7 linked regions of the Homo sapiens genome follow. Changing the gene in region 4 together with the main gene of any one other region gives a genetic interaction. Each region holds a gene or a part of one and is shown on either strand. Other genes may lie near its edges.

Region 1 (3,500 bases), on a different chromosome or scaffold from region 4:
GGCCTCTAATTTCCAAACATACACTTATCCTATTAATACGGAATACGGTTCGGGAAAAATCACTTGGGAATCACAGTTTCTTAGTTTGCTGTTATGGTTGTTGTATTAAGGAGATGTTAGCATGTCTGCCACTATATAGTTTGTCTACATTTTAGGACCCTCACGCTCACCCTGTGTTCCGTTTTCTCCCACCTACCTTAATTACAAGTTAGGAATAATTAGCGGAATTCTAAAACATTTCTCTAAATGACCTCATTACCATTTCTTCTTCCCTTCTACATAAGCCACATTATCTATTAATACTTTTAAGCTGACTATTACAAACATTGTCCCAATCTAATTCATTTTTTTCATGCCATGATTAGAATTAATCTCCAAATATGCCATGATGTATTCTTGCTTTCCAGTTTGTAACTATATACACATTCGATCTATTGTTGACAGCATGCTCTCAGATTCCCCCTACTATGGCAGAGGAGAAAGAAGGGCCTGAATGCCTGATGACACTGCAGAGCTGCCATACCAGAACCAGTTGTCTACAGATTTTTTTCATATGACATAAAAATAAGCAGGACAGGATTTATTCTGTTTCTGGTTGCTATTACTCGCAGCCAAATGCACCCCTAATTCATAAACTTGTTCACAGTGATATTTCTGCCAAATTTGAATGAATAGTAGTCATCAGTCCAAGTTCAAGAGAACACCCAATACTAACTACCTCTTTGTTAATAATTCTCTAACTTATGTTTTGAAATTTCCTCCTTAAAATGTCTGTGCTAATGACTTGGTAATTGTTTATGACTTTTCAATGAACTGTGAAGTACTAACATAGCAAATTTACAAATGCCAAGTACAGTTTGAGACTTACTACCTTTTTTTCTCTAACACGCAATTCTACACGGGGAAGTTTTTATAAGCTAAAAGCAACACAAAACATATGGAGGAACCAATGATAGCTCTTCCAGACAGGTCAAGATACAAAAAATCTTCTGTAGCCAAAGCTCAATGACCTATAAGCAAATCTCTTTCGATATGACAGCCAGAGATAGCAAGTGGGCGGTGTAGGAAAATGACTTTTCTATGTCCTCTTAGGAGCTCTACCCTGGTCTGATTCTAAGCAGTCTCACTTTTAAACTCTCAACAAACCAAGCAGGCCAGGAGCAGGTAAGAAGGAAAAAAGGAGGATCTGACCTTACTTTCAAAAATGGTTTCTGTGGGAGAAATACCATCTTTATCATCTAATGAGGGTTTTCTACTTTAACCCCAGATCAACCTCGACAGGTGGGTGTCATATATATTTGCCATTAAAAAATGGAGAAGATATTCAAGATACTACTTTGAATGCATTTTTTAAGGACTGAAATCAACTAATGAAAACCCAAGAATATCTTTTTCCCCCAATTTCTAGAAAGCCAGTCAAAATATTGTAACTAAAAATTTAATTAACATTTACTACAATTAGTAATATAAGTCGTGAGTCAATTTTTTAACATTGATTTTATGTGTTGTATACGCTTTTCTCATCAAGGAGTAGTACTAAGGATATTCACTTTTAAAATCTATTCTTTAAGAAAATCACAGTATATTTTAAATGACTTTAAAATGTTATCAAAGCACAACACTGCTGATAAACAGTATCAGGAAGAATAGTCTAAACTACAGTAAATAAAATAGTCAAAACTCCTTCCCCAATCTAGGAATGCCCCCTGCACTGATCCTAATGAATGAATGGTCATCCAAAGGCTGGCGTGAGGATAGAGAACTCCCTACTACAAAAGGTAAGATTTCTTCCCCCTTATTAGGAAGCTCTGTTTGCCAAGTCCTCTGTTATCTCAGACCATGCCTATACTCATTGTTTCAAAGTCTTTAATATAGAAATAACTTAGCTTCTACTCCCTTGCCCATCTGAGAGCCCTTCAATGAGTTAAAGATGGCTTTGATACCAACACCCAGGTCATCCTTTCTCATTCCCAATGGCTTATATCATCCACATATGATAAGGTTTATAGGTCTTTTTCCTTCCTGGCTATGCTTCTCAGCTTATTATGTCAATATGCCTCTTAAAAAAAAAAAAAGAAGTATACAAGAACAATTGGATATGAAATAGGATGAGATTAAACTGACATACAATGAAGTAGGAATCTTTATCTCTCTACATTATAACTATGTTTTATTTGATGCCAAGTCCTTGGTCAAGAAGATAACTCCAGTCTCCACACTGTTATTTAGAAGAAAATAGGATCAGCTTTAAACAGTAGTAATAATATTTTACTACCCTATTTGCAGAAATGCATTGCAATAAAAAGTTGGTGCAGCTGGGACTCTGTCAACAGATTTCTTAATATTTGAATATCAGTGCTGTTTTGATACAGTAATACTTATGAGGGATATCATTGTTAATGTGGTTTGATATACACTAACAACTTCACCAAAAGATATAATCTTATTACCCATAATTTTAATGATTTTTTTAAAGATGATTTTTCTATAATTAGATTACCTGGTACCATAATCCACAACCACCCAGTCTTTTGCAGTTCCTGTGATAGCATCATGATGTTGAAACAGTCCCAAATTCCTTCTGGCTTCTGTCAGTGCCGTGTAAAGTGATGATGAGAGAAATTTATTTATCTTGTATTTGTGAGCTTGTCTCAGGGCGAAATAGTAAAGAATTTCAGCAGCCCTAATTGCATAAAAGTCATATTTTTATTTTAAAACAAACACTTTAGCTTATAATCTAAAACTTGTGACATTGATACTTTACAAATTTTTTAATCCATAATTGCAGTACAAGCAATTTATGAAAAAGATATTGGTAATAATAGTTCATATAAAACAACCAATGTATCCCGTATAACACATTTACGTTCTCAATCATCAAAGAATACCATGTCTACACTGGTATCAGGAGTCCTTGTTCTAGATGATCCTGAAAAAGAAGCCAGAACCTGTTGGCAGCAAGACAGGCTTATTTATGAATAGCACAGTGAAAAAAATCTGAAAAATTGGATAAATTTCTCTGTCCTTTCTTCTCTCCAAGAGCAACACACACATAGACCATGAACATCACCAGAATATCATTTACTCTCACATATACACATTAAGAGAAATGAGAAAGAAAGGCATGGTCGGTGAGCGGGACACTCAGAGGAGAGGAGAGGCAGAAAATAATGGCCCAAGAATAGTTCAGGGGAAAGGGTTAGTTTCAGTTTTGAATGATAACATATAACAAATACAGAGAATTTAACAATACAAACTGAAAGATGATAAACAGTATGTCGGCTGGGCATGGTGGCTTATGCCTGTAATCCTAGCATCTTGGGAGACCAAGGCAGGAAAATCACTTGAACCCAGGAGTTCAAGACCAGCCTGGACAACATAGAGAGACTCTATCTTAGCCAGGTGTAGTGACATGCACCTATAGTCCTAACTACTCAGGAGGCTGAGGTGGGAGGATCACTTGAGCCCAAGAGTTTGAGGCCGCAGTGAACTAGGATCAC
Region 2 (4,189 bases), on a different chromosome or scaffold from region 4:
AGAAACAGAAGATTCACCTTTTCTTTTATCCCTGCATCAGCTGAAAAAGCCCTGCATATTTCTCTTCAGAACATACCAACGATGCCTCACTAATGCAACTATTTTTTTTAAAAAAAACCACATATCTGAACAGTATAGTCAAAATCAACTATGAATTATCAGTTCTACTTTCCTATTTTTAGCACAACTTTAGTTTATCAGAAACCTAAAACATGACTTTTCTTTAAAACAAGAAAATTTTCAAAACTACAAACCTTCATATATTCAGCCCTTCACCAGAAGCCCAGAAAAAAATTCATAATTTTTGAACAACAAGCAAATCATGCTTATTTTCCTCAAAATACTACTTAGGTTTTAAGAACCTTCTGATGTGCATCTGCCAAATGTGGCTGATTTCAGTCTCAGACAGGGAAATCTAAAAGGCTACCACAGGGTTACTGTTTTTGGTAAGGGGAAGTCGATGCCAGGAGGAACTTCTCTATTGATTACAGCAATGACCACCATTTATTAAGCACTTCTTAGCTCTCCTGGTGCAGTGCTAGGAGTTTGGCAAACATCCTATTTGTCCTCAGAAATAATCTTGCAGAGCAAACACCACCATCCCCAAAACCAGATGTGTAAAATGAGGCTCAGGTGAAGAATAACTTGCCCAAGATCACTGAATTAAATGTGGCAGAATCAAGTCTAATGAATGGCAAGGGTGAGAACTGGTCAGTTTCACAGAGAATTAGGCCTTCATCATACAAATGCCGCCTGCACAAAAACTAAATGAGAAACAGTGAACCCTTGCTGTAGGGAGAAAAAGCAATATTCCGAACTAAAAAAGTAGTTTCAAACAGAAGATCTAATGATAAACACATTTGTAAAGTCTGAGCAGGGAGGAAAAGGATTACTCAAATTACTCAAGTACAGCCCTATGGGGCTCCTTCACTTCTGTGTTCTTAAAATCTAATCTGGTTTAAGAGCGCATGGGCTCCGAGTAAAACTCTCCCAAATTCCTCCAGGCTTAACCACCCTCTACTCAAAAGAACCAGGAGCAGGAGTTAGGACAATGGGAAGTGACCGCCCTGCCCTGCCCTGCCGGTCCTCCCTCCGGGTCAGCTGTCAGATCCGCATGGGTGCGACTATAAGCCGGCACCGGAGCCCCGGGACTGGCTCGGCCAGGGTCCCCGCCTTTTCACTCCCAGTCCCGGCCCTGTCGGCCACCTCGTTTACCACCTCCAGAGGCACAAATAATTATACCGGAAGAATTTGTTTTAACAAGTAGAATTCTATATTCACCAACTGGCTTCGCTATCGGATATTACGGTAGGGTTCCAACAAGAGAAGGGCAAAAGAATATAGTTTAATTGTTCTAAACAATCTTTCTGAGAAGTTGGGGTGGCTGAGGCGGCCACGGGGATACAGCTCAGGCACCTGTGAGCTAAGCCCACTCTACAAACTAACCACCCCTACGTTTTGGGCAGAAGAGCGCCGCCTCGCCAACCCAGGTTATAAATGTACATATTTTTAAAGATGAGCTTTGACGCTGTGACACTTGTGGGGAGTCTCCCGACGGCTCCTCTACTTGATGGGGGTACAGGGAGTTCTGCGGCTCCCCAGCCCCGAGTTTCAAATACCGTGGCCTGGAAATTAACCGGGTGACTCGGTTTATTGCCTCCAGAAGGGTCCGCCTGCCGTGCTGGAGTAGCCGCCAGTCCCGCGCCCGCAGCCCCGGCAGGGCCCCCCACGCCCACCTTCCCACGAGGGGTGTCTCGTAGAGTCCGGCTTCAGGCGCTCCCTGGCCTGGCAGCACCCACCCCACCCCGCCCCACCCCACCCCCACGACTCGGGCTAGCAGCCTGGTTAATCATTCAACGCAAACAGTGTGGAATATTTTTTTTAAAAGGTCAAAGCGAAAGGTTTTCCCTAAGTTTGGCAGAAACCAGTTTTGGGGGAGCCGGAGACAGAAGTGGCAGAGGTTGGGGGTGGGGGGTGGGGAGCGGCTGCCGGCGGCTCTTTGGCTCACAAAACACCTGATCTCCCCATGCGGCACGGGAGGCCGGCGCAGTGCGAGGGTGGGGTGCGGGGGTGCGAGCGAGGAATCACGCGCGCCCCCCTCCCCGAAATGCCCGCGCGCCCCGGATGAGGAGGCCCGGCCCCAGATGCCCCTTGCCAAAGCCCGCATCGCCCCGGCGCCGGATCCCCCGGAAGTTGGGGTGCAGCGAGGAGGGGGAAGGTCCCCGGGCTCCAGGGCGAGGTGGGCACGGAATGGGTTGGGAGGTTCCAAAGCCCCGCAGCGGGCGGTGTCCCTCTCCTCTCCCTCTGGGCTGAGGTTGGGTGGCTGGGACGGCGGGAAGGTAAGGGAGGCTTAAATGCGGCAGGAGCCACCTAGGGACGGCTTCCTCCACCGGGGCGCGGGTACGAAGCCGGAACCGGCGAGGAACCGGGCGGGGGTAGCAGGGTGTCCGGAAGGTGGGGCCGGGAAGCAGGGAGGCGGAAGGGGACTGGTAGAGGGGCCTGGCGGTGAGAGGGCAGCGGGGAGGGAGCCGGCGGGGGTGCTCGGCGCCCGGGCCCTACCTTGTCCGGGAGCAGCTCCAGCTCGGCGGGGCGGGGGCAAGGGCGGGAGATCGCGGCCACATCCACGTCCCGGCCGCTCCGCGCGGCTCAGCCCGGCGACCGCCGCAGCTCACGCTCCATGCGCGGCGCCCCGGACGGGCGGCCCGGCGGTGTCGGCGGCAGGGACTGCTCCGGCTTGGCTCTGCTAGCCTCCGGCACTTGTTGCCGCTGCTGCCGCTGCCGCTGCGCCTCACTCCAGGCTCCGGTTCCAGGCGCAGCAGCCGCCGCGGGCGCCCGGCCCCGCCCCTCCCCTGCCCGCCCGCCAATGGGGCCCGGCCCCGCCCCTCACGTCACCGCCCGACGGCCCCGCCCCGCGCCCCAAGTTTTGGGAGGGTTCCGCTCTCCCCACCCGGTACCAGGACCCACCCGGGCCCGCGCTCCCTGCGGCTTCCAGGGACCCTCCAGCCCCCACGCACCCTCCTGCAAAGCCGAGGGTTAAGCTGGGGAAAGGGGGCCTCTAGGAAGGCGACCCCCCTGGAAATGCCTGGCAGCTCCAAAAACACTAATGAAACTCAGCTCCAGCCTCCGCCCCTCCAGTTGTGGGTGGCCCCTCTTGCGGTTCGTCTGAGGCTAGGGGACTAGGCGCATCGCCTAGCGAGACTCCAGTGGCCTTTTCTGTCCAGTTTGTAACCGGAACTAGACCGACCCCGGCCGCCCCCTCCAGTGCTGGGGCGGGTGAGGAATGGCCCCGCCGGGGAGGCGGGGGAGGGAGGCCTGGGCCACCCTGGGGTCTGACCTTTGCTCCACCTCTTAGGTGCTCACGACCCAGAGTGGTGCCCTGCTTGGTACTGCCACTGGATCCTCTGGCTTATGAAGCCGTCCAGGACAGGAAGGGTGGGGGGTGGTCCTTAGTTCTCTTCGTGGGGTCATGCAGAGTGGTTTCCTCGAGGTCCCACGCCCGTCTCAGGAAGCCAGAAACGCAAGATGCCGGGCGCTCGGCCCGAACCCGTGCCGCGGCCCAAGGGGCAAGGCGGATACCGAGGCAAGGCCTAAAGGGCCGGACTCTGACCGCACCCTCCGGACACTGCAGGGCTCCGCCGGCCAGAGGCGGCCTTGGCGCCAACCACACCTAGCAGCGGGGTCCCCGGGCCCACCGATGCGCCCTCCTAGCCCCGCGCTCCTTCGAGGGGTTCCAAGGTGACTCAGAGACGCAGCTGACACAATTCTGAGGCCCCCAGGTAAGCCTGGCGATACCGGATGGAGAAGTTACCTGGTCTTGAAAGGCCCAGTCCAGCCAGCGAGACCCGCGTGCGCTCCGCGGGGAGGCAAGCCTAACCAGGGGCTCACCTGGAAGCGTCCCCGCCCCCTGGTCCTTATCTCTGAATCGAAACCGAACCTGGACCCATCTAGATAATTGGACTGAGCAATTAAGGACGCTTCGCTCCTAACTGTTAGCATTTTTTCCTAAGGCTCTCGGAGGCGGAATCAGCTGGAAAGGAACATTGCTAAGTAGGAATTTCAGGCACCTGTGAACTGAGCCCACTCAATAATCGGCCCTTTCCCTTAACCAAACTCAGCAAAGGAAGAAAGACCAAGTTGCTGCGGATGCACAGAGCCACGTGGGTGCGGGTCCTCTAGAAACAGGAATTCA
Region 3 (3,500 bases), on a different chromosome or scaffold from region 4:
AATAATTCCAGTCCAGTGAGAAAGAGACTAATACTTACAGTAATATATGAGTGTCACTAAATACACAATATATGAGTGTCACTAAAAAACTAAGTTAAAATTTTCTATGATGGAGAAGGCATGAATACCTGTGCTTTGGAAAGTCTAGGTAGCTTCATAGAGGAAGTGGGTATTTCTGTAATTTTGAAGGATAAATATTTCCTATCTTTCTAATACCAAAAAGAATAAATATGGAATTAAAAGGATTATACATTCACACTAAGAGGACTAGGATTCATCACTGCAATATTATAAAAATACCCCAAATAATAATACAAACCAAGTGGTAATACAAGTAGGAGCAGAGGGCATAGGACTGGAACTTAATTCTATTTTTTTCTGGTTTCAAAGCCCTGTGCTCTTTGCTTCCTGACAGTTCAGATTATGCTCTCTCTTTACTGTCAAAACCCAGTTTTCGAATCAATGATCTCCCCTTACATTAAATCCATAAGCAATGTTTGGTTTCTTAATACTCAAGATACAGCTCAAGTACAAGCATGCCTCAAAAAATCTTGCTACTTCAATTCATAATATATTAATACATAAGAACCTATTAGTTCATGTTTTGGTGAAGGAAGTATAAACAATGAATACCTACCTCATAGGGTGTGACAAATGAATGAAATAAAATACAGAAGATGCATAATACAATAGGCCCTTAAAAATATGTAATTATACTGCTACCAGATGAAGAATTTTACAGTACTCAATATCAACATCAGAGAAGGCTGTATGTCAAGAGGAAAACTTAAAAGGAGATAGTAACAAAAAGATTTTAAAATTATCTTCTAGGCAGGTGAGGTAGAAAGGACATCCATCTACAAACAGTGGCATTACCTGCAGTTTGTTATTTTACAGGTAATATGAAAAGGTTCTTCAAGGTTTACGGTATCTGGTATTGCCTCCAAAGACAACCTAACATCTCCATAACCTGGAGCCTAAGAAAACAAGCAACACAGTTAATGTATATCTATCACAAAACCTTTCCATTTTAATGAAGGCACCACAGCAGCACATTTACTCAACAGCTGTTGGGTTTCCAAGCTGATGTTCTAAGAAAATACTTCTGATTCACTTTACTTGTCTCTCATTTTAAATTCTTTTGCAGCTACTGCCTGTGGAATAGCCTGGCAGACCTGGACTGTTTTTGTTATATAATTATTCCATGTTCAGTAGAGTTAAGATGAATCTCACAGGTAAGTAGTCAGTAAAGAAATTTCAGGGAGTTGAAGGGACACTTTCCAGATGCTGTAGCTTCTATGTGTGTAACTCTAAATAGGTAAAGTTATTTTCTAAAGAAAGAGGGGGATGATGTTGAAAGGAGCCAGGAAGAAAATCATGACTTTTTACAAGACGCACAGATGAGGATGGATTATAACAACACGAAGGCTTGGAACAGGCCATGGCAGAAAAATAACTAACGGCTATATTTAAGTGGGCCCAGGAATCATCATCATCATTTTTTAAAAATTATTGCCTCAAACAGTGGAAAGAAAAGTAAAATTTGGAATATGTCAAAACAGGTAATATTCAGCATAAAGGGAGGAGAATCCTGTCGTATATTCTTACAAGCATAAGAAAAAGAAGCCTGGTAGCTATCCCTACTCTCAGAGAAGAAATTAGGTAAAATATGCAACCAATGCTTATAAGATAACTTTAGTAGAACTCACCTTCTGAGGAGATGCCTCAGATTTTTAACATCTTAAAAATGGTAGGAACTGAGTAGGTGAATGAAGTAAGTCCAAGAGTTTCAGGACATTGCAAAATAGAAAACCTTAATGTGTTTGGAAATCAGAAGAAGAGTGAGCATGTGTTACCAAAGGAGAGACACTTAATAACAGTTATTTTAATTTCTGTGTGATAAAGAACACGTGTATTAAGGATAAATTAACATTTGACCATTTTTCATTCATGGCAACACCAGTCTTCGACCTACCTATCAGTGACACTATTAATCTTTTCTGCTCCAGTAGTAGTAATGCCTTTTATAGTGCTCCAATTTTTTACTGCTGGATGTAGAAAAAATTAAGTTGTTCTAACTACCTGTCTTTCACACACCAAAACCCCAGCGAAGTTTTTTCCAGACTCACCATTCTTTGAAGTTGGCTGGTCTGTAACCTTCCCCTTTCACCTAGATTTGTTTTCCATACTATATCCAATTTTCCAATTACTGTTACTCCCTTAATGATGCCTGCTTTTTCTGCAAATTCATTCTTTGGCTTTAGGCAGTATAAGTACTGGCGTGTATCCATTGGTTGCAAATATGCTCTTGACCCAAACGTAGACACACTGAGAGGGGTGGAGACAGAGACGGAGAAAATTCTCTAGCATCTTTTAAAAGAAAAACCATGGCTGTGATTGTTCCTTTGGATAGGAACTGGATGATGTACCCTCCAAAGATCAACAACAGAACATGTTAACGATTTCAATACAAATAAAAAGAACGTATACTGCAATGATTTATTTTTCCTTCATTTTTTTCAGTTGATATCGAAAATCTTGAGGTTCTTTATAGTAATTGGACCCCGAAAGGCAGGGGTCCCTTTTTTTTTTTTTAAATAATTTTAAGAGACAGGGTCTTGCTCTGTCACCCAGGCTGGAGTACAGTGGTATGATCATAGCTCACTGTAACTTCTAACTTCTGGGTTCAAGGAGGTTCTTTATAATAGAATGTAATATATTACTTATAAAATTGAACATGTATCAATTAACTGAAAAGTGCAACAGAAACCAGAACCTTAAGTATCCTGTCTCTTTTCTCTAAAATTATCAAAGATAAGAGTTTAGAATAATAAGAGACATACCATTCTAAACTAATTTTCAAAATGAACTAAAACATCTAGAAAAGAATGGAAAATTGTTTTCCTCAGTGAGGATGAAAGAGGCTATGAACTTTTCTGTGTGTAACCAACCTAAGAATATAAAAGCAAACTTTTCATTCCTAATTAAGAAATTCAGATGCTATCCCAAGCTATTACCTTCTTCTTCTTCTTCTTCTTTTTTTTTTTTTTTTTTTTTTTGTTTAAAATACAAGGTCTCTCTCTGTCACCAGGCTGGAGTACAGTGGTGCAATCATGGCTCACTGCAGCCTTGAACTTGTGGACTCAAGCGATTTTCCTGCCTCTCTCCCAAGGAGCTAGGAATGCAGGAGTGTACCACCATGCCCAGCTAAATAAAAAAAATGCCAAGTTGCCCAGGTTGGTCTAGAACTCATAGCTTCAAGCAATCCTCTGGCCTCAGCCTTCCAAAGGGTTAGGATTACAGGCATGAGCCACCACACCCAGCCTATTACTTTCTTATCTGTATTATTGTCAACTTTACATTTATTCTTCCTCTTTTAAATTAGCTGTGGAAAGGTGTATGTATTTCCTTTTCACAAAGTATTAAACCATCTATTCCTATGTCCTTTTCTTTTGATGTTGAGAGAGTATTTCTTTTTTTAAACCCACATTCACCCTTAC
Region 4 (4,081 bases):
CCACCATGCACAGGATTTTGGCCACTAGCAATTTCACCATGGTGGCGGCTTGGGCTGCTCTGGTCACTGCAGGGCCAAACCATCTGTGGGCGCACACCCAAGTCCCACGATGTGCTACCGAGCCCAACCACACAGTTGGAGGCTCATGTCTCAGTCCAGCAACTGTGAACATCAGGGGCACTGCATTAGCTTTCTTTCTTTTTTCTTTTTTTTTTTTTAGACAGAGTCTCGCTCTGTTGCCAGGCTGGAGTGCAATGGTGCAATCTCCGCTCACTGCAACCTCCGCTTCCTGGATTCAAGCAATTCTCCTGCCTAGTAGCTGGGATTACAGACACGCGCCACCACTCCCAGCTAATTTTTTTTGTATTTGTAGTAGAGACGAGGTTTCATCATGTTGGCCAGGCTGGTCTCGAACTCCTGACCTCGTGATCCGCCTGCCTCGGCCTCCCAAAGTGCTAGGATTATAGGCGTGAGCCACTGCACCTGGCCAGTTCTTCAGTTTTGGAACTCGGACTGGCTCTCTTTGCTCCTCAATCTGCAGACAATGTATTGTGAGACCCTGTAATCGTGTGCAATTAATACTTAATAAACTTCCCTTTATATATATAACTATTCCATTAGTTCTGTCCCTCTAGAGAACCCTGACTAATACACTGTCTCAAAAAAAGAAAAAAGTTCATCAAAATTAAAAAAAATCCAGGCTGGGTGTAGTGGCTCACACCTGCAATCCCAGAACTTTGGGAGGCCGAGGTGGGTGGATCACCTGAGGTCAGGAATTCGAGACCAGCCTGGACAACATGGTGAAACGCCGTCTCTACCAAAAATACAAAAATTAGCCGGCCGTGGTGGCAGGCACCTGTAATCCCAGCTACTCTGGAGGCTGAGGCAAGAGAATCGCTTGAACCCAGGAGGCAGAGGTTGCAGTGAGCCAAGATGGCACCACCGCACTCCAGGCTGGGCAACAAGAGCAAAACTCCATCTCAAAAAAAAAAAAAAAAAAAAACTAAATAAAATACAAAATTCCGCTCCTCAGTCTCCCTGGCCATATTTCAAGCGCTCAGTAGTCACACAAGCCTACTTGACTTCTGTGGTTACCGTATTTGACAGCAAAGGGAACACTCTCATCACTGCAGAACATGCTATTGGATGGTGGTGGTCCATGGCTTCCCCATGCCCCGAAATAAAGTCTAAACTCTGTACCCTGAGGCTGAAGCTCTGCATGACAAGCTCCTGCCTCGCCTCGGCCCTCACTGGTCCTTTCTGTGCCAAGCTTGCTCGTGCCTCAGGACCTCTGCATGGGTTCTCCTCTCTCCACCTGGAACACTGCTCTCTTTCCCCTGACCTTCCAGCGAGGCCTCCTTCTTCTTTCTTGCTTCTCTGCATCCAGGACCCCTCAAAAGGGCCTCCCTCGGTTGGGAGTGGTGGCTCACACCTGTAATCTCAGCACTTTGGGAGGCTGAGGTGGGCAGATCACCTGAGGTCGAGAGTTCGAGACCAGCACCTGAGGTCGAGAGTTCAAGACCAGCCTGGCCAACACAGTGAAACACTGTCTCTACTAAAAATACAAAAATTAGCTGGGTGTGGTAGTGGGCACCTGTAATCCCAGCTACTTGGGAGGCTGAGGCAGGAGAATCACTTGAACCCAGGAGGTGGAGGTTGCAGTGAGCCAAGATCAAGCCATTGCACTCCAGCCTGGGTGACAGAGTAAGACTCTGTCTCAAAAAAAAAAAAAATTAGCTGGGCATGGTGGTACGTGCCTGTAATCCCAGTTACTCGGGAGGCTGAGGCAGGAGAATTGCTTCAACCCAGGAGGTGGAGCTTGCAGTGAGCCGAGATCGCGCCATTGTACTCCAGCCTGGGCTGCAGAGCAAGACTCCGTCTCAAAAAAAAAAAAAAAAAAAAAAAAAGGGCCTCCCTCTCTGCCCCTGGCTGACTCCTGCCCTAAACCATATCCCTGTACCCGCCGGAAGGCCTGCTGCAGAACAGATACTCAAAAACCGCTGGCTGAACACATGGACGAGGGGAAGCGTGTGGCCACTGATAAGGGCCGCATTTTACCTGATGCAATGGGCCAAAGTGAAGTCGGTTTCACCCTGGACCCCAAAATGTCACCGTTCTTAGGAGGAATCTCAGCTCCTCCCCTGTCCTTGAGTTTTCCCCAACTGGGTTTTCTCCCCCACCATCAGCCCCAAGCGCCTCATGGCCCCGCTACCTCACTGCATTCAGGTCTTCGGGTCACTGCTCAGATGTCTCCACTCAGAGCTCTCCCCGCCCCCTTCCCTGGTGTTATTTTCTTTTATTTTGTGCTACAGAGGGAGCTAGGAATTACATTATTTTAAGTCATTTAAAGTCGTCCCTCCCCCCCGGCGGTGAGCTGGGCGGGACCAGGCTGTCTGTCTTGCTCAGGGCCAGCTGCACCCAGCGCAGAGCCACCCAGGCACACAGTAGGCGCCCAATAAAGACCTGTCCGGCATCTGGATACCTCAGTCTGTACAGTGAAGGTGAGGGTGGCCTGCACGCTCTCAAACCGGAGGCTGCTCGGGCCGGGATGAGGAGGGCACGGGCTCATTCATTCAATCAGCACTTATTGAGCGCCTTCTGTGTGCCTCGCGCTACCGGGCACCGGAGACGGGCCTCGGCTAACGTGCGGGTAGAGTCCAACAGACCCCCGGCCGCTCAGCGCCGCCCCGCCCCGCCGCCCCAGGTCCTCTCTCTGCCCGCACCTACCTCCCGGGGGCCCCTCGTCCGCCGACTGGCGCCGCTGCACGCCCAACGGCCGCGCAGTCTCGACCCCACAGACGCGGCCCGGAGAGGCCCCGCTCGGCGCGGCTGGTCCACGCCCCGCCCACGCCCCTGCCCATTGGCCTCCCCGAGACCCGCTGGCAGAACTTTCCATACTATTGGCTGCGAAACCTGCCACTCATATGCGACTCCACCTCTCCTACCGGCACAGGAAAGGGGTTTCCTCCCGCTGAGCGGCGGGCGCAGCCACCAAGCGGCCCCGGCGGGAAACCCGGATTGGCGAGGAACGGTTCCGGCAGGGTTGGGTTTCCAGAGCTGTCCAGGGGCGCCTGGTGCTGAATCCCGCTTGGAAAGAGGCTTGGAGGTGGATGGGAAGGGATTTCCAACGGAGGCGGCTCCTCTCTCAGCGTCCTCGCTGCTGATCCCCTTACCGACGGCTGAAGAAGCAGATTCATCCCTTCAACAAATCTCTGTTGATAGGCAGGAGGAGTAAGTCCAAGAGATCGACTGTACATCATGGTGGCTACAGCTCGTAACAATGCATTGCATACTGCAAAATTGCTAAGAAAGTAGATGTTACATGTTCAAACCATGAAAAAATAAGTATAGGAGGTAACGCGTAAGTTAAAAACCAAATCTTGGCAGGGCGCAGTGGCTCACACTTGTAATCTCAGCACTTTAAGAGACCGAGGCGGGAGGATCGCTTGAGTCCAGGAGTTCAAGGCCAGCCTGGGCAGCATAGTGAGACCCCATCTCTAAAAAAAAAAAAAAGGTTTTTTTTGAGACAGAGTCTCGCTCTTGTCACTCAGGCTGGAGTGCAATGGCGCGATCTTGGCTCACTGCAACTTCCGACTCCCGTGTTCAAGCGATTCTCCTGCCTCAGCCTCCCGAGTAGCTGGGATTATAGGCGTGTGCCACTATGCCGGCTAATTTTTGTGTTTTTAGTAGAGACGGGGTTTCACCATGTTGGCCAGGCTGGTCTTGAACTCCTGACCTCAGGTGATCCTCTTACCTTGGCCTCCCAAAGTGCTGGGATTACAGGCATGAGCCACTGCGCTTGGCCTGATGACTTGATTCTAACAAATAGAAAATGGCAAATGAATGGGATGTCATTCTGCGATTAGGCTATGAGAGATTGTGACTTCTGTTTTGCCAGCAGAGCCTGTCTCTCGCCTTCTCAGCCTACGTGTCTTGACAAAGCAAGCTAAGATGCTGGAGAGATCCAGAGGGAAAGGAACTGAGGGTGTCCTCCAGCCAACAGTCAGCAAGGCAATGAGACCCTCAGCACAAGCGTCCATAAGGAACCAAATGCTACCAACAGCCATGAACGTGATCATGG
Region 5 (3,500 bases), on a different chromosome or scaffold from region 4:
CCTGGCAAGGCGGAGGTGTTTGAGCAGAATATTAAAGAAGTGAGGGAGTAGGCCACGTGGAAATGTGGAGGAAGAGCACTCGGAACAGAGAGAGGAGCAAGTACAAAGGCCCTGAGGAGACAGCAGGTTTGCAATGCTACTGAGGCCAGAGGTGAGGAGACAAAGGGGAGAATGTCAGCAGGTAGAGGAGAGGAGAGCCAGGGCCCAGGTCACCCAGGCCCCACAGGCCACAATAAGGGCATATTTTACTCTGAGTGTCATGAGAAGGCTGAGGGGGTGAGGAAGGGGTGGTCAGGTGGCTACTGTATGGTGTACATACAGTACACCAGGTGACCTGATGGATCCCAGATCAGGACAGCAGTAGAGGCAGTGAGACACCCAAAGGATTTCTTAGTGGACTGGGCCTGGGGTTTACCAAGAAGAAGAACCAGGAGGAGACCACTGGGTACAGTGAGATGTCATTTACCAAGATAGCAAAGACTGGAGAAGCACGTCTAGGCGTTAAGTCCGAGGCATTTTAAGTGGGACTTGTCTATCGGGCCTCTTAGTGGAGATGTTTAATAAACAGATATAGAGTCTGGAGTTCAGGGGACAGGTTGGGACTGAAATAATAAACTTGGAGTCTAGAGTATAGAGATGGTATGTAAAGCCCAGAGACTAGATGCAACAATGTAGGGAGTGAATATCAACAAGCAGAGGCACAGGATTGAGTGCTAGGGCTTTCCAATATTTAGAGGGTGGGGTGTTGAGGAGGACACAAAAAAGACAGAAGGAGCATCCAGCAAAAGAGGAGACAAACTGGGAGAGTATTACATGCCAAGCGCGAAGTGTATCTCAGGAACGAAGAACTGACTGTGTCGAATGCTAAGAGGGCAAGGAAGATGAAGGGGAGAATGGTAAGTGGCTTTGGCACTGTTGTGCTCACTGGTCACTGTGACAGGTGTGGCTGGGGGAAAAGTCCTACTGGAGCAGGTTCAAGAGACTTGAAAAGTAGACAACAGGGACGACTCTTTCAAGCAATTTTACTGTAAAGGGAAGCCAAAAAGCAGGTTGAAAATAAAAGTAGAGTGATGGGGGGAACATGAATTTATCCAAATATTTGGTTTGCTTTCGGAAAACGAGGGACCAATTCAGCTGCAACATCACATTTGTACGACACTTTCAGTCTGTCTTTCACATAGTTGGCTCATGCAGTGCATTTATTACTAAATATTTTTAGATAAGGAAACAAACTTCAGATGAGTTAAGTAACTAACTTAAGGTAAAGGGAACCAGAGGTGGAAGCTGTGCCCTCACATCCTGAACTAGAGTGGTGCACTGGAAAGGCTGTAGGTTTACAGTTTGGCTAAATGAAATGCTGCATGTTGCAAAACTTCAGAAAGAGCTATAACAAATTTGGTTATTATTTCCACTTCAAAAATTCCTAAACCTTCTCAGAGACAATACTGTTTCTCATAAGTGTTGCTTTGCAGGCCAAGGCACATTGAAGAATCTCACCTTTTCAGCAAAGATGGGGTTTCCTGATAAGTGGCTCAAGTGCATAAACTCCAAATGCAGGGTTCCAAATTCTGCCAGAATACTGCTGCCTCCAGAGGCCCAGGGCCAGTTCCTTCCAATACCACTAAAGAAGAGATGACGTCGAAGAGTTATGGGTCAGATTAACTCCGTTTTTCACTATCTAAATAGCAGACATGAAATAGACAGCTTTTAAAAAAAGGCATCCTAGCTAATAGTCCACTCTAGATATTATAAAACCAAGCACTGTCTTCTTTGGCTACCAGTTTTAGGGTTTGTCTCCTATCTCCAAATTGAAAATTACTGTTGACTTAATTTAGAAAAAAGCTGCTGAGTACTTGCTGTTGGTGAACACACAAATCTTTTGGAAAATACAGGTGCTATATAGATGCATAACCATTCCACATAGAATATAAAAGAAAATCTGACCAAAACACTCCCACCATGCCCAAATGCCACATAAAGCTCTTCAACATTTTAATTTCAGCCTAAGAGACCAAGGAATTTTGGACATTCACATTATATACAAAATTTTATGTGGATAGAAGATAAATTTCAAAGATTCACTAATTATACACTCACTTCATCCCTCTCCAAATCTTCCTGCATTTACCAGACTTCCTTTCTTACGTGTATCTTCACACTATTTTATCTTTTTCTAAGCATATTACCTAAGGTGCTAACTCATTCTGTACTCTATATAACCTATGATCAAGAATCTCAACAAAATTATGTTATAAAAATCTGGAAAGGTGAAAGCCATGAGCTTCAGAAATTACTGCTTCATGGCCTTTCTTGGAGAAATGCTTTTTTAAAAAACTAGGCCTTTTAAAAAAGTTATAAACATACATACATACAAATACACATAAAGTGACTCCTGAGACATGGCAGTACTCTTGGGTACAGTTTATTTCTGAAGAGCCACTTAACACTTCAAGAAAGATGTGGTAATTCAAAAGAATAAAGTTCGTTATTCTCCTAATAAATTCCCTTTCTGATAGCTAAAATCCTACACTTTTAGTTTAGATGCACATTTAGTGCATGCCTACTATTTGCTAGGACTATACATGGCATTGGGTTACAAGCATGGTTATGATAATCAATCACTTTTTCTCAAAGACCTAATAGTGCAATGACAGAACAAGAACTAAGCATAAATAGTTCCAATCACACATGATGAATGCCGAGATAAATGTGTGAAGAGTTCTCTGAGCATCTAAAGCTGGGACACACAATCCAGCGTAGTGGGGATGGATCACAGAAGACTTCTTCAAGGAAGAGACTCCTGAGTTGATTCTTGAAGGGCAAGTACGAGTTGGTGAGGAAAAAATGATGAGAATCTGGGCAAGGGAGAACACACGAGCAGAGGGGCTGGCCAGGAACCAGAGGCAGCTGTTACACTGCAGAATGGAGGAAAGGAAGGTTGGTGGGAGAGAAGGCTGGAAGGACAGGTTGGAGCCAGGTCTTAATGGCTTGTGGAATTCTTGCTTTCCTCTCTTTCTAAGGTAGACCCCATCAAAATGCTCTTGGTGTCCACCCCCACTTTGTTTTTTGCCATGTATCAGTCACAGCTCTGGGTAAACCCTTTCAGTCCTGTCCTGGCGTCTGCTGCCAGGCTGCTGAGGAAGAGAGAAACCATGAGGATTACTGGCGCTTGCAGTCCTGGGCTCGCCTCACTCTCACTTCCTGCTCCTTTCTACAGCAAAACCTAGAGTTTCCTCCAAAACACTGATATACAGTACATCTAAGAAAAAGTAAAGAGAAATAAGACACAGAGATCTGAAAATGATATATTCATTTATTTTACAAAATGCCCTAAATTTATTAGGCTCTGGGAATGTGAGTCAGGTTTTATTTTCATAGTTGGCTTATAAAAAAGAATTTCCAATCATCCAAATAGGATGAATAGCTACTTTCAAAGTTTACTAACATATGGCAAATGCACATGGTAATTGGTCATTAACTAGTTGTCATGACATATCACT
Region 6 (3,500 bases), on a different chromosome or scaffold from region 4:
GAAGGCCAACACAGGAGGATCACTTGAGATCGGGAGTTCAAGACCAGCCTGGGCAAATTAGCAAAACCATCTCTACAAAAAATAAAAAAGCATTACTTAGGTGTGGTGGCACAATCTGTAGTCCCAGCCACTAGAGAGGCCGACATGGGAGGATTGTTTGAAGCCAGGAGTTTGAGGCTGCAATGAGCCATGATTGTGCCACCGCACTCTAGCCTGGGCAACAGAGTGAGAATCTGTCTCTTAAAAAGAAAAAAAAAAATCATATCTTCCTAAAGCAAAGAACACTTGTGTAGCAGAGGCATTAAAAAGCCTAACGAGCACAGCTTCTAAACAATGGTATACTTTTTCTCTGTGTACACAGCAAATTTCCACACAAACATGAAAAATACATTTGTACTCTAGAAAGCAAAAATATTTCAAATGAATATTAACAACTATTGGGATCTACATATGGATTACCTCTCAAAAAGCTGATAGACACAACTTACATCACTTTCAATTGCTAAAAAATTATTCAATCAACACTTTACAAAGAAAAGAAATCTAGAGTAAAAAAAGTAAAAAAAATAAGAATGTAAAATATCTACCCATAATGCCTGGAAATGCTAGACGAGGTAGTTTCTTTTGCACTGGAAGCACCCGTGAAATCCACATCTGAGGTATTGGATGAATGTGCAGTTCCCTCAGTTCTCCTGAGACAAAAGAATTTAAATTGTGTAACGACTATATTATATAACAAACAAATATTAATATCTACTCAAAAGACAAAACCTAGAAAGGGAGAAAATAACTTTCTATTTACCCTATAGAACAAGGTAAATCCAAAGTAGGATTCTCTGAAATTGATTCCTTATCCTGGAAAATAAAAATATATACTTAAAGCATGTCTCTAAAGTAAGCTGAAAAAAATACTAGCTTCTCAGTTATTTCATGCATCCTTCTTCTTGAGAACATATACCAACATATCCTCTTACCAAAAGTGGCTCAGCAGTTTTTTGAATCATTTTTCTTGTATATGGGCCAGGTGGACGACCTACAGATTTTTTCTTTCCTTTTTTTTCTATGCCATTGCTTACTTCCCTGAAATGGAAAACCATTATGCATTTAATCTCTGCATAAAGAAAACAAAGACATTGACTCTATGTATGTAACTAGACACATATACATATATTTTATTATTTTATATTAATGGTAATAAAAAGTAAATATTAGTTGAATCCACAAGTTTAGTCAAGTGCACAGATAATATATTCTAATCCAAATAAATATTTCTTGACTTTAAAGATATTTACATTATGAAAGGTTTAAAGAAAGTCCTCTTTAATATAATTCTGAACAATATATACCACTTAAAGATTTAAAAACAACAACAAAAACCAGACAATTATACTGGATGGAAGATTTCAAAACTCCTAAAAGCTCAATTATATAGTTTAATTTTAGGTGGTTACAACTTGGAGGATGTTTCAAGGATTTACTACTAAAAATGACTATGAATTTAGCAGTTAACTTCATGGAGTCAGGAAATATCTATGTTAACATTGTAGTAGTCATAAAGGCTGCCTTTAGATATATATGTAGATTCTTGAATGACACTATCAGAAAGAGAATGAAGCCCAGAGTGGCAGAATGTAAAGGAGAAAGGAGTAAGAAATCCTTCATATTCTCAGGGAGTCATTCAAAAGGAAAAATCAGAAAGACCTAGAAAACCATTTTTTAAACATAAAGCCAAATACCAAGCAATAGGAAGGAAAAAAGTGCAATAGGCAAAGACACTAATTATAGAAAAAAAGAAAATATATATATAGAAAGAATATCTATTTCATTTACTCAGCAATAGCTACCATATAAAGATGATATTAGATAATATGGATACAAAGGTGTTCCCTGTGCTAAAGAGTTCACAATATAGTTAGAAAGTGACAAATGTGTATACAAGCCAAGCTAATAAAATGGAGTGAGGGCTATGAGGAAATTGTCCAGGAGACTTCAATTAAGGAGAGAAAAAAGAACACTATACAATAGCCTAGAAAGAGATGAATGGAGAAAGTAGGAAAAAAACTTATCCCTCCAGATGCCAAAAAAGGTCAGGGAATAAAGGTGGAAGTATGAGGAAGGAGAAAGTAGGGGAACTAGAAGGACAAAGTAGAACCAGACGCTATAATCAAAAGTCTCAAGAATAAGATGGATGGGATATCCATTTCTTTTGTAAAATGATCAACATAATATTTATAAAGGACTCCTGGACTAAAGAAAGTAATCTCAAACTAAAAGGAACAACTTATACACAAGGTCCAGAAGGAACTGAGGATGCCTTTAAAGAAAGCAGCTGAATCCTTATCTGGTGGCATCAGATGACCTGATAGCTACCACAAAGGGAATATCCTATCACAATCATGATAGAAATGAAAAAGCTTGTGGAATTTTTTTTTCTGATTCATAATATGGGCAACTGCTAGCAAAGGATCTGAGTGACAAAATCTGAAAGTGATAGAATAAGCATTCTTTCCTTCATTCAAAGAAAACTTAATTAGTAGCTAATTTCTTACAAACTTCATATAACTGGACTCATTGTCAAGGCTTTGTAATGACATTTTCCTTATCTCCAAGATGACTATTCCATACCTTTAACTGACCCTTAAATTCCCCTCTCTGTACAAGCCTCTCAGCTATCTTTACCTTATATTTCATCGAGAAAATGGAGGCTACCAGGCAAGAACTTCAGTCAATTTCCTTATCTCCAAGATGACTATTCCATACCCTTAATTGACCCTTAAATTCCCCTCTCTGTACAAGTCTCTCAGCTATCTTTACCTTATATTTCATCGAGAAAATGGAGGCTACCAGGCAAGAACTTCGGTCAATTTCCAACTGCCCAATCTACAACAGAACTGGCATCTGTACCCATCTTCTCTTTCACCCCATTTCAACAGAAGGATGCTTCTCCTTCTAGAAAAGGCCAGTCCCACATTCAGGCTCTACATCCCTTCTCTTTTGGCTTCTACTCTCCTATACCAATTTCCTCTTCTCCACTGGATCATTCCTACTTACACACAAAAACAGGTTCCAACTATCTCCCATCTATTTTAAAAAACCATCATTTGACTAGTCCTATCCCCCTCTTCAGCTGCCATTCCATTTGTCGGCCTCCCTACATAGGAAAGCTTCTAGGTGTTGATGACATATACCCTTTCCATTTTCTCCCCTCTCATTCAGGATCCTTAAAGATAGTTTCCTATTTTCCTCCTTTCCTTTACTACTGTTATTATTTTGAATCTGCCTGTGTCCCTGATACGCAGGAGAAGCCCAGTTTGACACGTAAATTTGGCAATGCTGGGTTCAGTCATACTTTCACCCAGTCCTATCTGGTTTCTATCTGTACCACTTCAAAGAAATTCCTTTTATCAAGGTCACTAATAACAAAATGATACCTTATGCAATAAATATTTTTCTTTCATTTTAATCTACCTCTCACTAGCATTCAATACACTTTAATATAC
Region 7 (2,850 bases), on a different chromosome or scaffold from region 4:
TCTTCCGGAAGTGAAGGTGATGGATTTTTCACAGGGGAGAGCGAGGGGGCGTGGTCCTAAGAGGTCACCTGGTTCAGGGTCGGGGGGAACCCAGCCAAGGCCCAGGGTCAGCCCTGGGATAGGGACAGCAGTAGAGTGATGATGAGGACAACTCTGCCACCACAGCCCAGGGCTCGGGGCCATAGCCATGCCAGGCTGCTGGGAGCTGCCTGACCTGAGGGCCCGTGTATCCCTCAGCTGTGCGCCTCAGTGCCAGCCCTGCAGGGAAACAGGCCCTGTGTGAAACGCAGGCGCAAGGATGCCTCCCGCCAAGCATCTGCCCCGTGGGGCCAGGGACACGGAGCTTCCCCGTGGCCTCTCCCTGCCCACCAGCAGGGGACAGCTAGAGTCCAGTCTCAGCAAACCGAATTCTGAGACGTGACTTGAAGAATACCTTCTCCCCAACGTCCGCCCAGACTTTCCAGTCATGGAGATCCCTAAAGACACAGGCGACATCGCGGTTAGAGCAAATCAACTTTTATCTCCACCGAAAAGACCCATTCCACTGGAGGGGCCCGTGAGCTAGACGGACTTGCCGTCCAGCCCTCCAAGCCCCCTGCGGGGCGGCCAGGAGGATCCCTGAGTCCAGCTTGTAAACACCAGAGCCAGCCCTGGAGCCTCAGGCCTCTGGAGTCACGGCAGCCCCTCCAGACCCTTGGATTGGGGACATCTGAGGCTTCACGAGCCCGGGCAGAGCTGCACCCTGGGCTGTCCACTCGGTCACCCCAGTACCAGGGACCACCTCGAAGCCCCCCTCTGGTCGGCCCACAGAGACCTGCTCAGGCTTCAGCAATCGTGAGTCATGATTCGTGTCTTCTGGAGGAAGCAGGCGGAGGCTCCAGCGGCCCAGCCCACCCCGCATCACACCAAGACTGACGGCCTCACTTGTCCTCACGGTGTCCTGATTAAAGCAGAGACGAGGAGGAGCCCAGAGCCAGTTCAGAGCCTGGGCCACTTGGCGGTTGCCGGTGCTACGTGGGCCCTTGGAAAATGCCACAGACCCAGCAAGGTGCCTCTGCCCACCCGAAGTCCCCACACCAGCAGCCATCCACCCTAGGCAGGGGTCCAGATAGGCAGAGGGTGGGCTTCGGTGTTGAACACGTAGGCATCCAGGCTGAGCAGGTTTGGGTCATCGGAGAAGAGCAAGAACAGATACTTGAGCGTCTCCCCCAGGAAGAAGCTCTCCATCTTGTCCCTAGGCTCGGGCTTCTGAGGATCCTGGACATTGTTGATGGAAGAATAGCCACCCGAGGGGACCTGTGCAGCAGCCAGGGCCTCGTCACCACACGGGGGGCACCCTGCACCCCCCTCAGCCTCATCACCGAAGCGCTCTCCACCCCATGGTGAATGTGGCCCCCAGCGCAAGCTCAGGGTGGAGGGCGCCTGGATGATGGCCACCCCCAGGCGAGCCGTGTGGTTCCACCGGAGCCCACCTGGAAATGCCAACAACCCTCAAGTGACCACGACAGAAACCGCCTCCCCCAGAACCTGGGCTCAGGGGGCCTCACAGTTGCCGCACAGGGCACAGGGCACAGGGCAGACGGTGGGAGCGGAGGCAGCGGGGGCCTCAGGCCAAGATCACAGCAGAGCCAGGAAGTGACACTCTGGCGTGGAGGGCGTGACCTAAAACAGGGCCTGGTCCACAGTGGGGATGGTGCCCCAGTCATGGGTGCGTGTGCCTCCTAAACTGGGGGGATGCTGGGCCCACAGCAGAGACCCTCCCTAGACAGGCCCTGAGAAATGAAAATGAGGGGTGCCCAGCCCCTCCAAGTACTCTGGGTCCCACAACCATGAAGCTCAGTGGGGATGGGGATGCCAGGGCCCCCAAGCTGCAGTGTGGCCACCCCGAGGCTGCGGCAAGCCCGCCCCTCCCGGATCCAGGTCACAGCCACCACCAAGAGCGGAGCCAGCCTGAGCCCCACAGCCCAGCCGTGCCTGTGGCCCGGTGGCCGTGACCACGCGGGGCGAGGACAGGTGCTCACCCGTGTGAATCGGCTGAAGCTCTGCAGAATCTCCCAGCCCCAGTCCTGGTATTTGCGGTCCCCTGTGACGCGGTACAGGTAGAACAGGCTCTCCACGGTCTCTGGCCGCAGCAGGTTGTGCCTGTCTGCTGGCTGTGGGCGGAGCAGAGCTCAGGGCAAGGCCAGCCCTGCCAGCACCCTCCTCCTGATGGACCCTGACCCAGGCCCAGGCCCACCTTGACCTCCACGTCCCGACGGCCCGGCTGGGGGTAAAGGTTGAAGTGCACGATCTCGGGACTCAGCCCCGTCTCCATCTGCCGGTTCATCTGGTAACAAGTCTCCATGAGCTCCTGGGCCAGCTCCATGTGGCTGGCGGGCAGGCCGTGGTAGACGCCCAGAGCCAGCGTCCCTGGCAGGAAGCACACCAGGTGGTCCTGGAATCAGAGGGTCTCTTCAGCCCCAGATCCCAGGCCCTGCCCTCAGCCTGCAGCTGCACGGGCAGCCAACGTGGGAGCCCAGCGCTGCCTCGGCCCTGGTACCCTGGGAGGGGAGGCCACGCGAGGGCACTTGGCATGGAACAGCGGAGCTGCCTGGACCAGGCCCTCCAACCCGGCCCCCACACACCGCCCGAGGACCTGCTACACACCGGGCACGGGGAGGGAGCTGCCCTGGGGAAGCCCTGCCCACCCCAGGTGCCACACAAGGCCTTACTGCCCTGTTGCCAAGACAGGCCTGGCCAGGCAGCCACGGTCCACCCAGGGCCTCCACGTGGGCGCCATGGCCAGGATTTCGTTCTTTTTGACATCATGACTCAGGCACCTTGGAAGCCAAGGTAAAAGGGGCGGCGGCC

What was found.
Region 1: changes in SLC39A3 (region 4) and MAN2A1 together harm fitness less than expected from each alone (positive genetic interaction), as found in Homo sapiens cells (one large-scale study listed by BioGRID).
Region 2: changes in SLC39A3 (region 4) and B3GNT2 together harm fitness less than expected from each alone (positive genetic interaction), as found in Homo sapiens cells (one large-scale study listed by BioGRID).
Region 3: changes in SLC39A3 (region 4) and TRAPPC13 together harm fitness more than expected from each alone (negative genetic interaction), as found in Homo sapiens cells (one large-scale study listed by BioGRID).
Region 5: changes in SLC39A3 (region 4) and MAN1A1 together harm fitness more than expected from each alone (negative genetic interaction), as found in Homo sapiens cells (one large-scale study listed by BioGRID).
Region 6: changes in SLC39A3 (region 4) and MTF2 together harm fitness more than expected from each alone (negative genetic interaction), as found in Homo sapiens cells (one large-scale study listed by BioGRID).
Region 7: changes in SLC39A3 (region 4) and MAN1B1 together harm fitness less than expected from each alone (positive genetic interaction), as found in Homo sapiens cells (one large-scale study listed by BioGRID).

Annotation. Positions count from the first base shown.
Region 1 is NC_000005.10:109,783,927-109,787,426, reverse strand, and holds part of MAN2A1 (alpha-mannosidase 2), read right to left. Parts: intron 2,684-3,500; coding exon 2,501-2,683; intron 1-2,500. UniProt on the Homo sapiens protein: Catalyzes the first committed step in the biosynthesis of complex N-glycans. It controls conversion of high mannose to complex N-glycans; the final hydrolytic step in the N-glycan maturation pathway.
Region 2 is NC_000002.12:62,194,726-62,198,914, reverse strand, and holds the start of B3GNT2 (N-acetyllactosaminide beta-1,3-N-acetylglucosaminyltransferase 2), read right to left. Parts: upstream 2,801-4,189; 5' UTR 2,560-2,800; intron 1-2,559. UniProt on the Homo sapiens protein: Beta-1,3-N-acetylglucosaminyltransferase involved in the synthesis of poly-N-acetyllactosamine. Catalyzes the initiation and elongation of poly-N-acetyllactosamine chains. Shows a marked preference for Gal(beta1-4)Glc(NAc)-based acceptors.
Region 3 is NC_000005.10:65,659,527-65,663,026, reverse strand, and holds part of TRAPPC13 (trafficking protein particle complex subunit 13), read right to left. Parts: intron 2,329-3,500; coding exon 2,130-2,328; intron 978-2,129; coding exon 877-977; intron 1-876.
Region 4 is NC_000019.10:2,737,218-2,741,298, forward strand, and holds the start of SLC39A3 (zinc transporter ZIP3), read right to left. Parts: upstream 2,801-4,081; 5' UTR 2,728-2,800; intron 163-2,727; 5' UTR 41-162; coding exon 1-40. UniProt on the Homo sapiens protein: Transporter for the divalent cation Zn(2+). Mediates the influx of Zn(2+) into cells from extracellular space. Controls Zn(2+) accumulation into dentate gyrus granule cells in the hippocampus.
Region 5 is NC_000006.12:119,203,262-119,206,761, forward strand, and holds part of MAN1A1 (mannosyl-oligosaccharide 1,2-alpha-mannosidase IA), read right to left. Parts: intron 1,622-3,500; coding exon 1,498-1,621; intron 1-1,497. UniProt on the Homo sapiens protein: Involved in the maturation of Asn-linked oligosaccharides. Progressively trim alpha-1,2-linked mannose residues from Man(9)GlcNAc(2) to produce Man(5)GlcNAc(2).
Region 6 is NC_000001.11:93,131,283-93,134,782, reverse strand, and holds part of MTF2 (metal-response element-binding transcription factor 2), read right to left. Parts: intron 1,081-3,500; coding exon 975-1,080; intron 856-974; coding exon 803-855; intron 693-802; coding exon 588-692; intron 1-587. UniProt on the Homo sapiens protein: Polycomb group (PcG) protein that specifically binds histone H3 trimethylated at 'Lys-36' (H3K36me3) and recruits the PRC2 complex, thus enhancing PRC2 H3K27me3 methylation activity.
Region 7 is NC_000009.12:137,106,834-137,109,683, reverse strand, and holds the end of MAN1B1 (endoplasmic reticulum mannosyl-oligosaccharide 1,2-alpha-mannosidase), read right to left. Parts: intron 2,435-2,850; coding exon 2,237-2,434; intron 2,154-2,236; coding exon 2,022-2,153; coding exon of another isoform or gene 1,722-2,021; exon of another isoform or gene 1,306-1,721; intron 1,297-1,305; coding exon 1,093-1,296; 3' UTR 501-1,092; downstream 1-500. UniProt on the Homo sapiens protein: Involved in glycoprotein quality control targeting of misfolded glycoproteins for degradation.